2 linked regions of the Homo sapiens genome follow. The protein of the gene in region 1 interacts with the protein of each later gene in a pairwise test. Each region holds a gene or a part of one and is shown in the gene's direction. Other genes may lie near its edges.

Region 1 (7,377 bases):
GTTGTCATCTCTCATTAATGTGTGGCATCTCCTGGGATGCATCTTTCAACCAACCAGCATCCCAGATTTATAGGTCAAAGCAGAGGATCAGAGAACTCATCCCAGGGAGGAATGGCACTTGCAGAAATGGGCAGCCATGACTTTGCTTGACTCTTCTGTCTTCTTGCTAGAGTTGTTTTTTAGCTTCCAGACATGAAATGCATTGGGGCTCAGATGACCGGAATAGGCTAGATCTGTCAGTGATGGTCCAAGGGACTTTTCATTGGTAAATCTGCTGAGACTGCTGAACAAGGCTAGTGATGCCTTGCTTGTGAGCTTCCTAATCTGGCTGCTGTATGACATTGCAATTCTGGGCTTCAGGGCCCCAAACCAGCATATCCAAAGAACCTGAAGCCAATTGTTCTGTCATTCTTTAAAGACCCAACGCATGGGATGGCAGATGCCAGGTGCAGAATATAACCTCCTGTCCATCCCTACAGAACATCATATACTGGAGACAAGAGGGCCCAGCCTACCCAGAACAAGACCCTTTCTCCAGATCACTAACTTTCTTGAGGATCTGAAGTTAAGCCACATGCCTAGACTCTTCCTGGGCCAGCAACCATTTTACTTAGAATGTCAAGGGGAAATCCCCTTGGAAATACTCCAGTACCCATTGCCTAAGGACTATGTGCTTATTCTCTTTTTGACCAATCATTATAATTCCAGAGATTTAGGAAGCCCATTGCTGTATCAAGGACTATAAAATGGTGGTGGCCAAGGTGTCAAGGATCCCAGACCTGCCTAGGACTCTCTGTGCCATTGTCCCTGGAGAGAGAACCCAGTTACTCTCACTTCCAGTGCAGTGGCTCCTGATCTTTGAGTTGTTTGGCTTGTTTTTACATGTGATTATTTCACTTTTAAACATCCAGGAAAGAGGCATCTGCAGAAATAAGGATTTCTTTAATAATTTCTTATGTTGGGCACTTGGAATGTCCTGCCACAGGTACATGCACCATGGAACTGGCAAGTGGGCAGACAGAAAGGACAGGCTGGCAGTGCAGGTTTCCCAGGATCTCATGAGGTAGGGCTGCTGCTGCTGCTGCTGCAATATCTGCTGGCCGGAGGCTTTGCTTCCATTTTAGACATCCCAAACAAAGTCATCTTGGGGGACCTAGCCCCAAACCAATCTTGGTACTTAGATCAGGCTGCCTGACATAACTGAGTCTCATTTTCTGTTTCGGATACTCCCAGGTTCTCATGCTGCTTCCCAGTGCCTCCCCCATTAGATGGTACCTAAAGTAAGAAAGCCATTGACACAGAGAGGAGAGAGGAAGTGAGACGGGTCACAGACAAGTGATGGCCTAGTCTCCCAGCCCCCATCCTGCCATAGCACTGTTGCCCTTCACCCTGCCTTGGGCTCTGACATGCTCCCTTCCCCCCCACCCCCGGCAGACTCTGGATGGGCACATGGTGGTGCGTAGCCATGCCCGTGTGTCGTCGCTGACCCTGAAGAGCATCCAGTACACTGATGCCGGAGAGTACATCTGCACCGCCAGCAACACCATCGGCCAGGACTCCCAGTCCATGTACCTTGAAGTGCAATGTAAGGAATAAATGGGGAAGGACCTGGGGGAGGGAGGGGCAAGGCAGGGTCAGGATGAGAGAGGAAAACATCAGCAAGGACCTATGTGCACCCTGTGTGTTCTGCTTACGTTCCCTGCAGCTGACCCTGGGCTATTTCAGAGCTCTGTTCCCAAGCCACCCCCTACACACCATCTCCAGGCTTCTTACAAGCCTGCTGTGCCCTTGAGTCTTCTTCCCATGCTGTGCACAGGAATTCTAGAATGGCCCTGACCTCTACTATACCAGGCGCTGGCTCTGCTTTGGAGCACACCTGCCTTCCCAGTGCCAGGAGACAGGATATGGGGGCTTCATAATCATGGCAGTCATCCTGACAGTCATTGTTATTTATTGCAGATGCCCCAAAGCTACAGGGCCCTGTGGCTGTGTACACTTGGGAGGGGAACCAGGTGAACATCACCTGCGAGGTATTTGCCTATCCCAGTGCCACGATCTCATGGTTTCGGGATGGCCAGCTGCTGCCAAGCTCCAATTACAGCAATATCAAGATCTACAACACCCCCTCTGCCAGCTATCTGGAGGTGAGTCAGGATGGGGGTGGGACAGAGCAGAGAAAGCACAGTTTGACTCTAGGTGGGCTCCAAAATGCAGCTCAAGTCCTCTCTCCTGCTTCTCTGGCACATCCTGAGCAGGGAAGGCATGGGCTAGAGAAGACACTGAGCCTCTTTTCAGCTCCCCTTCGCCCACTCTACCAGTCCCCTCCCTGAATGTGCCTCTCCCATGAGCCCCTCTGCTATTCTTTTCTCTTGTTTAAGGCTGGGCTGGAGCTAATGATTTATACTTTACTAGTTCTGTTTTTTACTAACTTAATTCAGTAAATAAAGATCTGAGTCTGTGACCATCCCATAGGACACTTGTAACCCAATAGCTTCTTCCTTCTAAAGGTGACCCCAGACTCTGAGAATGATTTTGGGAACTACAACTGTACTGCAGTGAACCGCATTGGGCAGGAGTCCTTGGAATTCATCCTTGTTCAAGCAGGTGAGTGTCCCTTACTCACCTGAGAGCAGCTGCCACAACCCCCCACCTAACCCTGCCAGCCCAATTTGTGTACTTGAGTGATTCCAGGATATTGGGAAGAAGAAAGGGCCAGGGTCAGCAAAGCCAGAGAGTTGGGAAGCTGGGAGCCATTGGATCAGCGCATGGGGCATGTTGGGGGAGAAGCATCTGGTGAGATGGGCCAGGAGGACAGGATACAGTGACAGGATTCCCAAGAGTGAGCAGAAATGACAGAGATGTGCCTTGTGACTGAGAGTTAATGGTCTTGGGCCAAACTGGGCTCACCTGAGTCTCCATATGTGTCTTCCCCACAGACACCCCCTCTTCACCATCCATCGACCAGGTGGAGCCATACTCCAGCACAGCCCAGGTGCAGTTTGATGAACCAGAGGCCACAGGTGGGGTGCCCATCCTCAAATACAAAGCTGAGTGGAGAGCAGTTGGTGAAGAAGTATGGCATTCCAAGTGGTATGATGCCAAGGAAGGTGAGTTGGGCGAGTTGGTGTTTCCATTGGGATCATGAGTGCCTCAGTACTCAGATGTCCCCACCTGCCATCCTGGGCATGTTCCTACAGAATCAGGAACTGCACCTCCAGAATTAGGTCAAAGTCATATCTGCCTGTAGAGTTGTTGCCCCTATTGCCACCCCAACCCATGCTCTGTGCTTCAGAGCCTGGTTCTCATGACCCTTCCAGTATGGATGAAGGCATCTGTACCACATTCCAGGCAGGAACCTTGTGTAGGTTCTGAGCGCAGCCAGATGAGTCCAGCCCATAGGTTCTGAGCATGGCCAGATGAGTCTAATCCATCCTACTCTGCACGTTTGAGTTACCTGTGCTGCAGGTTCTCTGCCGACACCCGGCCAGTCCTGCTTGGATATCTGTACTCAGGGACTGGCTGTCTTGTAATTGTGATAGTAACCAAATAAGCACAGCCAGCAGGACAAGTCTGCCCTTAAATCAGTCCTGTGCTAGCTTTCCAAGCTAAAGATTAAAAGACTGACCCTTGGATTACTGCAGTGTGAAGATTCTGAGCCCAGATCATCTGAGGATAATGTGTGCTTATGTTGGACTCCCCTTTTTGGGTTTAATTGGAATAACTCAGTGAAGTATGTTTTGTTTCTGTACAAATTTTTAATCCTGGTCTCGTATGTGGTAATTCGAGTGGAATTGGAAGTAGGCTGGGATATCAGTATCACAGCCATTCAGAGACATAGTCCAGTGCAGTTTCACTCAGAATTAGTTCTGCCAGAAAGTTTCCATCACTTCTTCAGCTTCTCGGGGGAGCCAGGGGGCCGAGAGGAGCTGCTGGGTAATCAGGATTGGAGCCAGAAGAAAGCAATCACTTTGCCTTCCTAACTTCCCTCTGAAATCTCATACCAATTTTGTGGCAGGTTGATCTCATGTCACTATCTGTCCACCCGACTTTTTTTTTTTTTTAAAGATCAATTCTAGTTATTTTTATTATAAAATATACATAACATACATTTTACGTTCCATCATTTTTAAGTGTAAAATTCAGTGGCATTAAGTTGTAACCATCACCACCATCCATCTCCAGAACTTTTTATCATCCCAAACTGAAACTCTGTACCCATTAAACACTAGCTCTTCATTCACTACCTCCTCCCAGCCCCTGGCAACCACCATGCTTTCTGTCTCTATGTAGTTGGCTATTCTAAGTACCTCACATAAGTGGACTCATATGGCATTTGTCCTTTTGTGGCTAGCTTATTTTATTTCACTTAGCATAATATCTTCAAGGTTCATCCATGTTGTAGCATGTGTCAGAATTTCCTTCCTGTTTAAGGTGGAATAACATTCCATTGTATGTCTATGCCACATTTCATGTATCCATTCATCAGTCAGTGGTCATTTGGGTTGCCTTTCGGCTATTGTGAATGATGCTGCTGTGAACATGGGTAGCCCAGGTATCTGTATCTGTTTGGTCTGCCATCTGTATCTGTCATTTGGGTCTGCCTTTCGGCTATTGTGAATGATACTGCTGTGAACATGGACAGCCAGGTATCTGTATCTGTTTGGTCCCGACTTTCAATTCTATGCATATGCCCAGAAATAGAATTGCTGGACCAAATGATAAATCTACAGTTAATTTTTTCAGGACCCTCCCTACTGTTTTTCAGAGCGGCTGCACCATTTTAACAATAGACTCTTTTGTCATCCTTCCCATATTATAACAGCCAGCATGGAGGGCATCGTCACCATCGTGGGCCTGAAGCCCGAAACAACGTACGCCGTAAGGCTGGCGGCGCTCAATGGCAAAGGGCTGGGTGAGATCAGCGCGGCCTCCGAGTTCAAGACGCAGCCAGTCCGTAAGTAAAGCCAGCTGCCCCCCTTTTCCCAGCCCACCTTCTTCTCCCTGGGGGCAGTGGGGAACCCTGAGCTGGCCCATGTCATTGTTCAGACCACAGCTTTTTGTCTTTCAGATCCCTCTGCTCCTGGAGGCCCCACCTCCTAGTTCTCTGGTTCTCAGTGACAGCTAACACACAGTCCCTTCATTCTCTCTTTCTCCAAGGGGTTGGGGACACTGTCCTAGTAGCCGGTCCAGCTTGTTAGAATAACAGTGAAGGGGAAGGCACCAACACATTATTAAAGGAAGTGGGGAGAAAACCAGGAGTGAGTTGTCAAAGGATCTGGGAAAGTTGCTTTTCGACAGGCCACAGAAGCCCTAAGCACCCTGTGACTTGCAGGAAGAGGGTAAAGATGGTGACAGTTCACATAATGCATTGCGGGATCTTTGATGCAGCAGAGATATTAAGTCAGAGACAAATGGAAACTGCTATAGAATATGTGAGCAGCAGCAGAAACCCAGCAAAGCCAAGGGGAAGAGGTAGCCCTGGCCTTGGCCTTTTCTGCTCCTCTCCCTCCCATAGCAAGAGCATTCCTCACGGCCTCTTTCAAGAGAATTGCTTCCCCCTGATTCCACTCAGGGATGTATCTCTAGGTTTTCCTCGGCCATTCCCTCTTTCTTTTAACTACGCCTATCCCACTTTGCCCTCCCTTCCCACCAGCAGCCAGGCTGTGGGCAAGCCCTGCTCCTGTCATACCCCTTTGCAGACAGAGATACTACCCTGGGAAGCTCCTGAGTCCACCCAGCTAAAGAAGATACCGTAGAACTAAATTTCTGAGTGTTCACAGAGTTCCCTGGGCTCTCTGACCCCTGGATTTAAAATGCACCTGGGAGAATCCTTTGCTTCCTTCTTTTTGAAGCCAGGGGCCTGCAAAGGGACCCACTGCCCTTACCTCTTCCCAGAAATAGGAAAGCCTGTCTCATCTTCCTTCTACAGGAGTGGCTTCTTTCTCTGGATTTGAAGTAATTTGATAATTTGAGTTTCCAGCTCCATGTGCTCTGCGGATTCTATTCATTTCTTTTACATCTTATTTTTTTTTTCTTGGGTCTGTCTCTTGTTTTTTCTTTTCGTCTGTGTTCCATCCATGGGAAATGCAGATAGCCCTCCTCCACGTAAGTGCCTCTTCATACCTCATTACCTGTTTCCATAGCGTTAACATCTGCTAGTTCTAGTTCGTAATTTAGTTCTGGTCCCTTTTTTGTCCCCTAGAGGCTGAAGTAGATGATATTGTCTGGGCCCTAACCACACTGACCTTAGTCTAGTTGTGCTGTTGTTAACGTCTGTAGGTTACTCCAAGAGGCTAACACTCTTCCTGTTTTAGAGCATGCAACTTCTGTGTCTTTGGAAATTGTGCTTATTTATTAATTTTTGTGTGTGATGATTACCCCACGGCAAAGATGGTGTTTGCTGAGCCAAGCATGGTGGAAGTCTGCAGATGGGCCCTGAATAACACGCTATAGCCCCGCCTCACCTTCAGCCAGGATGCCGGGAAAGTGACCACAGCCCCACCAGGCCACTATTCAAAACACCTTGAAAGGAAAAAGAACCTGAAAGGATTTTCATATTTGCTTTTAGGAGATAAAGGAATTGAGCTCAGTTGCTTCCTTGCTTCTTGTCTGTCAGCTTGGTAGCTGGAGGGGAATAGGAGGACTGGCCAGGGAGGCTCCTGCAGCAGCTGCCATAGTCAAAACGTAGCATGAACTTTGGTTCCGAGCCATGGGCATGTCCCACAGGTAGCTGTTGCAGAGTTAAATCTCTAGTTCCGGTCAGCTCTGTTCTTTAGCATGTAGTTACTTGCAGTGTGCATCTCCTCGTTTGGGGAAGACTAACCAGCTAATGTAGGAACTCTTCTGCCATGCATGCTAGGGAAGGGGAGATTCCCCACTGGAAGGACACCCTTCATCATGTAAGCTGTACATAGAGGACACAGGGAACAAGGGTAACAGAGAGATGAACTGTGGTTTGACCCCATTAGCCTGCAGAAATGCCCCTAAACTTCCCTTCTCCTGAGATTTGGTTCTTCCTAGGCTGAACCAGAATAGCGGAGGGAGGTGTTACCCAGGCAGACACAGAAAAAAAGGTATTCAGGAAGCTGTACAGTCTTTTCATAAAAAGGCTCCCAGCTCCTGAAAGGTACCCAAGGAAGCTTATCTTTTTAACATTATTCAGAAATATTGCAGCAACAGCAAAAACTAAGTAGCTACATGTAGGTATTCTGAGATTTTGAGCAAGTGCCAAATGTCCTACCTCAGCAGAGTTGGTGCCGGGATGAACCAGCTCTCGAAGGCATCAGAGTTGGGGGATGGAGCCTTCAGGCCGGACTGACAGGTACCTGCTCTGGGCCTGCAGCTATGCCCTAAGCAAGTTCGAGAGGAGCCACTCTG
Region 2 (7,377 bases), about 46 Mb from region 1:
AAGCTGGAATGGGGCCTCGGGTTTCTGGACCACACAGGCCAGTGCTGTTTCTTTGCTGTGCTTTATCCCCTCCACCCACCCCTGCACACCACTGTTCTCGCCTCTGTCCACATTTTGCGGTGTGGGCTGACTGGCACCCCTTGTCTGGGGCCATCGGCTGTCACAGTTCACAAGGCTCAGCCCTCTTCCCGTTGGCTGGGATGGAGAACTGAGCTGCCGTGGCAAAGCTACTGCACCGAGGGGCAGCCCCACTCCAGGGTCCCGTCAGATGCAGGAGCCTGTCTTCCCCATACCCACAAGGTCAAGGTCAGAGTCAGGGAGAGGGGCTGTGGCTTGTCCCAGTGACAGGTTGCCACTGGGAATTGTTCATACCTTGAGGTGGCCCACCTTGGCAGCCCCTCCATGGCTGGTGCCTGGGGATGTGTCTTGGCCAAGAACTGGGGCTGGCATCACAGCTCTGAGTTCCAAAGGCTAGGGAATGGGAGTGGTTAGGCACAGTGCCACACTGAGTTGGCACAGGGGCCTCCCCTTCTGTCACCCTATAGAATCCAAGGAAACAGTCCCTTTCCCCGACCTTCTTGTAGAAGGAGGTAGCGTAAGGCAGCATTGTGTATCTGGAAGATGGGAGGTCTGGCTTCTCCCTCTACCACCAGCTCACATGGGACCCAGGCGAGTCCCTTAGCCCGACTGGACCTGCCTCAGTTTCCACCTCTGTAAAACGAGGCGGCTGCCCCTTCACTCTCAGGGTCTGTGGTCTGGGCCTTGCCCTGAAGGAACTGCTGTCTCCCTTTCCCAGCAGCCAGCAGTCTTGTAATTATCATCATTTGCTTAATATGACCACTGAGGCCTCGTGTAATTAATCTCTGGGCTCCTAGCTGAGGAGCCCTGCCTGGGCGCTCCCAGGAGGTTCCTCTGCCCTCCCCGGTGACAGTGGCAGCCCCAGCAGCAGATTGTCGGAGCTGGGTGCCTCTTGCAGCCTCCCGATTTCTTGGCTGTTTCCTGGTCCCTCCCCCACCGAGAGTTTCCTCCTTCCTGCCCCTTTCTGGCTTCCCTGTCTCCCCAGACCCTGCCCCTGTTCCTCCGCTGCCTCGTTCCTGTTAACTCTTCGCAGCCAGAACTTCCTGCCCTCGATTTGTGGGGGAAGGGGTGCAGCGGGAAGCTCTCTCCCTCCCTCCTTCCTTCACTCCTGCAGCACCAGCTGAAACCCTGCTGCTTCCAGCCTTTGTCCCTTACCCAGAACTTTCCACTTCAGTGGCAGCGTTCTCCCAACTCCTTTCCCTGCAAACAAGATGATCTTTCCTGCAGTCACTCCCTCTGGGCCTTTGAAGCACCGCCGTTCCCCAGGAATGGGTCTCTGGGATGTCTTTCCCGTCTGTTTTCCTTTCCAGAGCATGCGTTTCACTTATTTGCCATTAAGTCGCCCGCCTGCCGTTACCTGGGTAAATGGATTTGAAGGGAGTGTGAGCAATGCAGGTTGGAATCTGTGCAGGGGAACCTGGGCTGTTAACCCAGAATGAGGTGTCCTATTAATGCACAATCAATTCCTAGTAGTAAGTTCCCGGTGACGTCAGGTACAGGAGCGCTCCGCAGCCAGTGTTTCCTCCCCGTGCCTAGGTTGCACCCAGGTGGGCTTGGCAGAGGGACTGAGTGCTCAGGCTGGTGGGTTTGGGCTCCACGCGCTTGGCTGTTGCTTTCAGGGTATGCTCTTGCCTCGGAACACACAGTGGGAACCAAAAGCACAGTGTAGCCCTTGAGGATGCACAGCCTCCCTCACACCTGCCCCTTCTTCCTGGGCCCCTTCCCTACTCCCCGCCGGCTCCCCATGGGTCAGTTTCCACTGCTGGATGGAGCTATATTCACGTTATTTCTACTCTGCTGCAACTGAGATACTAAAAATGAGGTGTTTGACTGCAGCTTTTTTCTAAAACAGTAATATCCCTTCTCTGCTTTGCTGTTTACTGCAAAAGGACGCGTCTATGCTGGCAGAAGTGGGTTTTCTGGTATTAACATGTTGGCAGCTCTGTTCCCAGGTGGGGGCAATTTTCTGACTCTAGAGCCATTTCGTGTTTGGGATGGGGGATAACCCCCTCCTGGAAACCACAGGGCATGGAATTCTGGAAGTTTGTTCTTGGTGCATTCTAGCGTAATGCAGATTACGGTCTCCATGTCAGCAGTAAATTGCAGGGTGTGGGTGCTCATGTCATATTTGTGAAGAAGCCGTGACATTTGACAAGGCCGCCAGAGTGCCTCTTCCTGAGCATCCCCGCAAGGGAGCTGCTTTGTGGCCGACACGACGTTCCGGAGCCCAGGCTGCTGCAGACCCTGGCTGTGTGTGCGGGGCCAGCTGGCTTTTTCTCTCCCCTGCTCAGGGCTTACCTTGGACCTGCCGGTTTGGGCTGGCCTTTCCTATTTGATCTGTGGCCCCGTCCTTGTTCGCCCCAGGGAGAGTCATTGAGAAACATTAAGAAGCCCCAGGGGACTTCCTTCTGCTGCTGGCACCTTGGTGTCTGGTTTCCTGGAAATGCCACAGGGAGCACCTCGGCCACAGCCACAGGCCCTGCTGCACTGGTTGGTGAATGCTCGCTCATCTCCCAGGGGACGGTTCCCAGAGTGGCCGCACCAGACCTGCCAGGCCTGTAGCCTTCATGCCAGCTTGCACCGTCCTGGCGTGGCAAAGCTTTAGCATCACTGTCACATGAGGGGCACAGGAAGCATGGCCCCTGGCTGCCAGCTGCCAGCCAAGGCTGCCTCCCATCCTGGGTTCCAGGGAAGGGGGCTGCTCGTCTCCTACAGCTCCTGGTCAGGGACGGGAGGGCAGCCAGGCCAGAGGCTGGGCACAAGTCAGGGTCCTCTGAGCCCTGCACCCAGCTCTTCCACAGAGGTCAAGGGGGGGATGGAGGGTGCTCTAGTGGAGGCCGTTTCTCAGGGAGCCTTTGGACATTTTCTTTGCCACGAACTCATTGTGGGCCTCGGAGCACGTGGCCCAGCCAGCTTCCTTGCCATCAGCAAGAGTGTGTTTGTCTCTGACTTGTCACCCCCTCCTGTCCACACAGCTACAGCCTCTGACCCCGAGCAGGAGACACCTAAGAGAGCCCAGGCCACAGAGGATGGCCTGGACTTTGCATTTCTTCTGAACCATGAGGTGCCAGAAGGGACCGGAAGTGCTCCCTCAGCACCCACTCCTTCCCTGTCACCCAGTGCTCAGTGCTGCAGCTGCTCACTGTCTTGGGCTGAGCCTGCTCCGGGAGCAGTAGGAGCTGGTGCAGGCCGCTGTAACTGCAGGGGTGCCAAGGTGGGACTGACTGCTCCTTCCCAAAGCTGGGTGGGCACCAAGTACCTCTGTGCCAAGGAGCCCTTGATACTTTGGCAGGGCAAGCCACGGGCTCTACCCACTGGGCCCGCAGTAGAGCAATGCAGTGCCTGAAGCTGGTCTGTGAGCAGAGGAGTCCCACCCTGCTCGGCTCAGCCCTGGCCACAGGCCCCATCCTCCAAGGCCCCATCCTCTCCGAGGACACGGCAAATGTGGAGCAGAGGCTTGAGCAAGACCAGTTACTGTGTGATTCTAGCATGGACTGTCGGTGAGCCGTGGGGCACTGAGAAATGGGGCTCTGGCGGCTCTCTCCCATGGCCCAGCAGGCGGGGCACGGCGGGCAGCATGGCCAGCCTGGCATATTAGAAGCCCTCCTTCTGCCGTGTCCACCCAGGCTTTGTAAATGGCCAGTGTGACGGTGGCGATTCAGCATCTCATTGACATCCTCATTTTACAGCTGGGGAAACTGGACATTTCAAGTTTGTGACCAGGTGGTGAGGGCCACTTGGAACCCAGGCACCCGTCCAACGGCCAGAGCAAAGGCAACTCTGAGGCCCTTGCCCAAAGGTGTTGGGAACCTTAGCGTCCTTCCATCTGGGACTGTTGAGGCCGCTTGGTTCTCCTGATGCTCCAGAGTAGATCTTGGGAGCCACGTTCCCCCGGATCTCAGGGTTGCTGACCTGGGTGGGGGACAGGGACACGCTCTGGGCTCACTGCCACTCCAGACTCTGCCAGTATCAGGGAGCAGTGTTGGAGACAAGGTGACCCAGTCCAGGAGGCTGTCCCACCCCTGTGCTCGCCCGTGCTTGCCACCCTGGCAGGAGCTGCCCCCAGTGGCAAGTTCTTCCAACCTGCCAGTTCCCTTGGCGGCCAGACCCATGGGAATAGACAGGAAACCCTAAAATTGCCACTTTGGGGGCCTTCCATTCAAGGACTCTGCTCAGGCCTGACCTCGTGTTTGGTTTCTTGCTTGGGGGGAGGGGGGTTGTTTATTTTATTTAAAAAACATTTTTTTCTTTTTAAGGAAGAAAGTGGAGTGCTGTGGGCTGGGAAGAATGTGGTGGCCATGCCCAGGCGTGGCTGCTGAGGGGAGAGATGGCCTCAGAGCCCCGGGTCCTGCTTCCTGCTGTTCCCAGGCCGGGGCTGACAGCAGAGCCCCTGGGAAGGAGAAAGGGCCTGCCCGGCAGGTTCCCCTGGCTGTCGCAGGCAGGGAACCAAGCATGCTTCCCCCTTGGAGACTTTGTGTGTCCAGTTGAAAAGTGGCAGTGGCTACTCCCTGGCTCCTAGGTGGCCATTCCCTCTGCCAAACTGGCACCTTTTTTTTTTTTTTTTTTTTTGAGACAGAGTCTCACTCTGTCACCCAGGCTGGAGTGCAGTGGCACGATTTTGGCTCACTGCAACCTCTGTCTCCAGGGTTCAAGCGATTCTTCTGCCTCAGTCTCCTGAGTAGCTGGGACTACAGGCGCACGCCACCATGCTGGGCTAATTTTTGTATTTTCAGTAGAGACGGGGTTTCACCATGTTGGTCAGGCTGGTCTTAAACTCCTGACCTCATGATTCGCCCGCCTCGGCCTCCCAAAGTGCTGGGATTACAGGCGTGAGCCACCGCGTCCCGCCAAGCTGGCACCATTTTTGCAGGCTCCTAAGAAGCAAGTCTGGGGCTCAGTGGGGCTTACTGCTGAAGCCCGGTGGCCCCCATTCCTGGGACAATGCCCGGCTCCTGGTGGGTGACCCCTACAGGCTGGGATTGCTTTGCCTGTCATCTGCATCTGCCTGTCGCTACCTTCCGCTTGACCAGCACCTTTTTTTTTTTTTTTTTTTTTTTTTTTGCTTTTTTTCATCCCCTTCTGTGGACCAAAATGTCCTGGCCCACCTCCCAGGTGAGATGCAGGCCCCTGACCTTGGGGTTTTCTCCACGTTCCAGTCTCCCAGTGCACAGCCTGTGCCCTGAGGGTCGCCCAGGGCCCAGGCCTCCTGTCTGCAGGTGCCAAGGGCAGGGACCGTGTCTTTCTCAATTCAAGAGATTTTTATGAAGCCCTTGCTGTGTGTGAAACACCACAATCTCCGTCCACCGTTTCCTGTGTCCCTGGGAGTCCCACATGCCGGGAAACATGTCCTTGACGGTGGCTGGTGGACATGAGCTGGCGTGTGGCCCGAAGGGGCGGGTGTGCTGGTGTGGACGCGGGGCCCATCCTCGGAGCTCCTGTCAGTTCTCAGAGGGCATCCTCACTCCCCGGTGGGGGGCATGGGCCCCCCTCTTCCCATCCAGGCAGGGTCTGTTCCAAAGCAGTCATAGGATGCGAACTCAGGGTCACCTAGGCCCATCCTTGTCTTCAGTGCCCTGCTTCCTGCTGGAGACAACTTTGGAAGAGGCCGCGGCCCCTCCCAGCCTCTGAGGGTGGGGAGCAGGCCAGGGGGTCGCGGCCTTGGAACCGTGCTCATGGCAGCCCTGCTGTGCTCGTGCTATCTCGCTCGGCCTTTCCTGAGGAAGGCTGGAACCAAGTGAGATCAGGGGCCGAGGCCCGGGAGTCCACTGCAGCCCTTCCTGGAAGGACAGTGCCCAGTGGAAGCGGATAAGAGCCCCCTCTCGAGGCCGAGGTCAGAGGCCAGGCAGGGTCCACAGGCCAGGTCCGCACTGTCTGGAGCTGCTCTCCGCAGACGGCTCTTCTGGCTGAAGCTGCCATTCTTCCAGACCCTCGGGCCCAAAGCCTGGAAGCCCTCACGGGGCTGGCCTCATAACCCTTCTCCCGGTCCCCGACAGCCTGAGCCTTCTCCCACCCACCCCCTTCCCCTTCTTCCTGCCCAAGTGTTGCCTCTGCCTGGGCTTCCTCCGCGTGGCGCCTCCAGTGGAGTCGGGCCACCCACCGCCCTGGACCAAGCCTCCTGAGTCCTGCTCTCCTGCCCACTCCTTGGCTGTGAAGCCCCCTGGTTTGCAAGGCCCTGCCCTCCGCCTCACCATGGCCTTTGTGTGCCCTCTCTCCTGCCCCATTGGCCCCTTGCTCATCCCTGGACATACTGTCCCCTGCCTGTTCCCACGTCTACCGACCCCCCTGGCTTCGCCAGCTGCCGAGATCCCACTTGCACTCCAGGAACCCAGTGGAGTTCCACCTTCTCCACACAGGCTTTCCAGACCCAGAGGCCTCCTCTCCTTCCCAAGGCTTCTGCACACGCTGTCTGGTATCACAGGCTCAGAACCATGCCCTGGGCAGGGCTGTTTGGAGCAGGGGGTGGCTTTGGCATGAGGTACACAGTGCCTCAGGGGTAGATGTGCAGCGGGTCCTCGTGACCACAGCCTGGGTGGCCAGTCCGACCAGCCCTGGGCTGGGCTCCTAGGGGCAGGCAGGGCCGGGGTGCAGAAAGGCAGGGGCCATGGCAAGCACAGAGAACCTGGACTTGCGGATCCAAATCTCCACCAGCTGCAGTCATTTCACGGGAGGCCTGCTGGTGGCCCCATAGACCTGCAGGGCCATGTGAGCGTGACATGGGCTCAGGTGTGTTGTCCCTTCAGGCCCCCAGCCTTGCAATGCCCTCAGCATGGCAGCTACACGTTACCCCAGGAGCCCAGACTAGTGAGGACCAGATGCAGGCCTCAGCTGGCTGTTGGGACAGACCGGCAGGGCTGGGCTTGAGGTGGGCCAGGAGAGGGCAGGAGGGGACAGTAAGGTGGTATTTGAGGCCGGGAGTGTAGCCTGGTGTGGCGCTCCCAGACAGCACTCAGTGTGGGGTGAGATAAACAGGGTGGGGGATGTCGGGTTGGGTTTTGAGGGTCACAATGGCCAGGCCCTCCCCTATGGCCATACCAAGCAACCCAGGGCAGGGGTCACATTTTATATCCAAGTACTAGGGACACACGAACCAAGGCATGGCCTTTTCTTACAATTTAAAAAATTGAGATGCAATTCATATAAAATTCATCATTTTATTATACAATGTAGTGTTTTTTAGTACATTGACCGTGTTGTGCAACCCTTACCCCAAAAAGAAACCCCGTCCCCACCGCAGTCACTCCTCTCCCTCTCTCCAGCCCCCGGCAGCCACGGATCTGCGTTCTGTGTCCGTGGATCTGT

The links.
Region 2: the proteins of NCAM1 (region 1) and GRK2 interact in binary tests that used the Homo sapiens proteins (3 or more experiments, as listed by UniProt).

What each region holds. Positions count from the first base shown.
Region 1 is NC_000011.10:113,230,211-113,237,587, forward strand, and holds part of NCAM1 (neural cell adhesion molecule 1 isoform 2 precursor), read left to right. Parts: intron 1-985; coding exon of another isoform or gene 986-1,063; intron 1,064-1,434; coding exon 1,435-1,585; intron 1,586-1,959; coding exon 1,960-2,144; intron 2,145-2,507; coding exon 2,508-2,604; intron 2,605-2,936; coding exon 2,937-3,107; intron 3,108-4,822; coding exon 4,823-4,954; intron 4,955-6,090; coding exon of another isoform or gene 6,091-6,105; intron 6,106-7,377.
Region 2 is NC_000011.10:67,269,384-67,276,760, forward strand, and holds part of GRK2 (beta-adrenergic receptor kinase 1), read left to right. Parts: intron 1-7,377. UniProt on the Homo sapiens protein: Specifically phosphorylates the agonist-occupied form of the beta-adrenergic and closely related receptors, probably inducing a desensitization of them. Key regulator of LPAR1 signaling.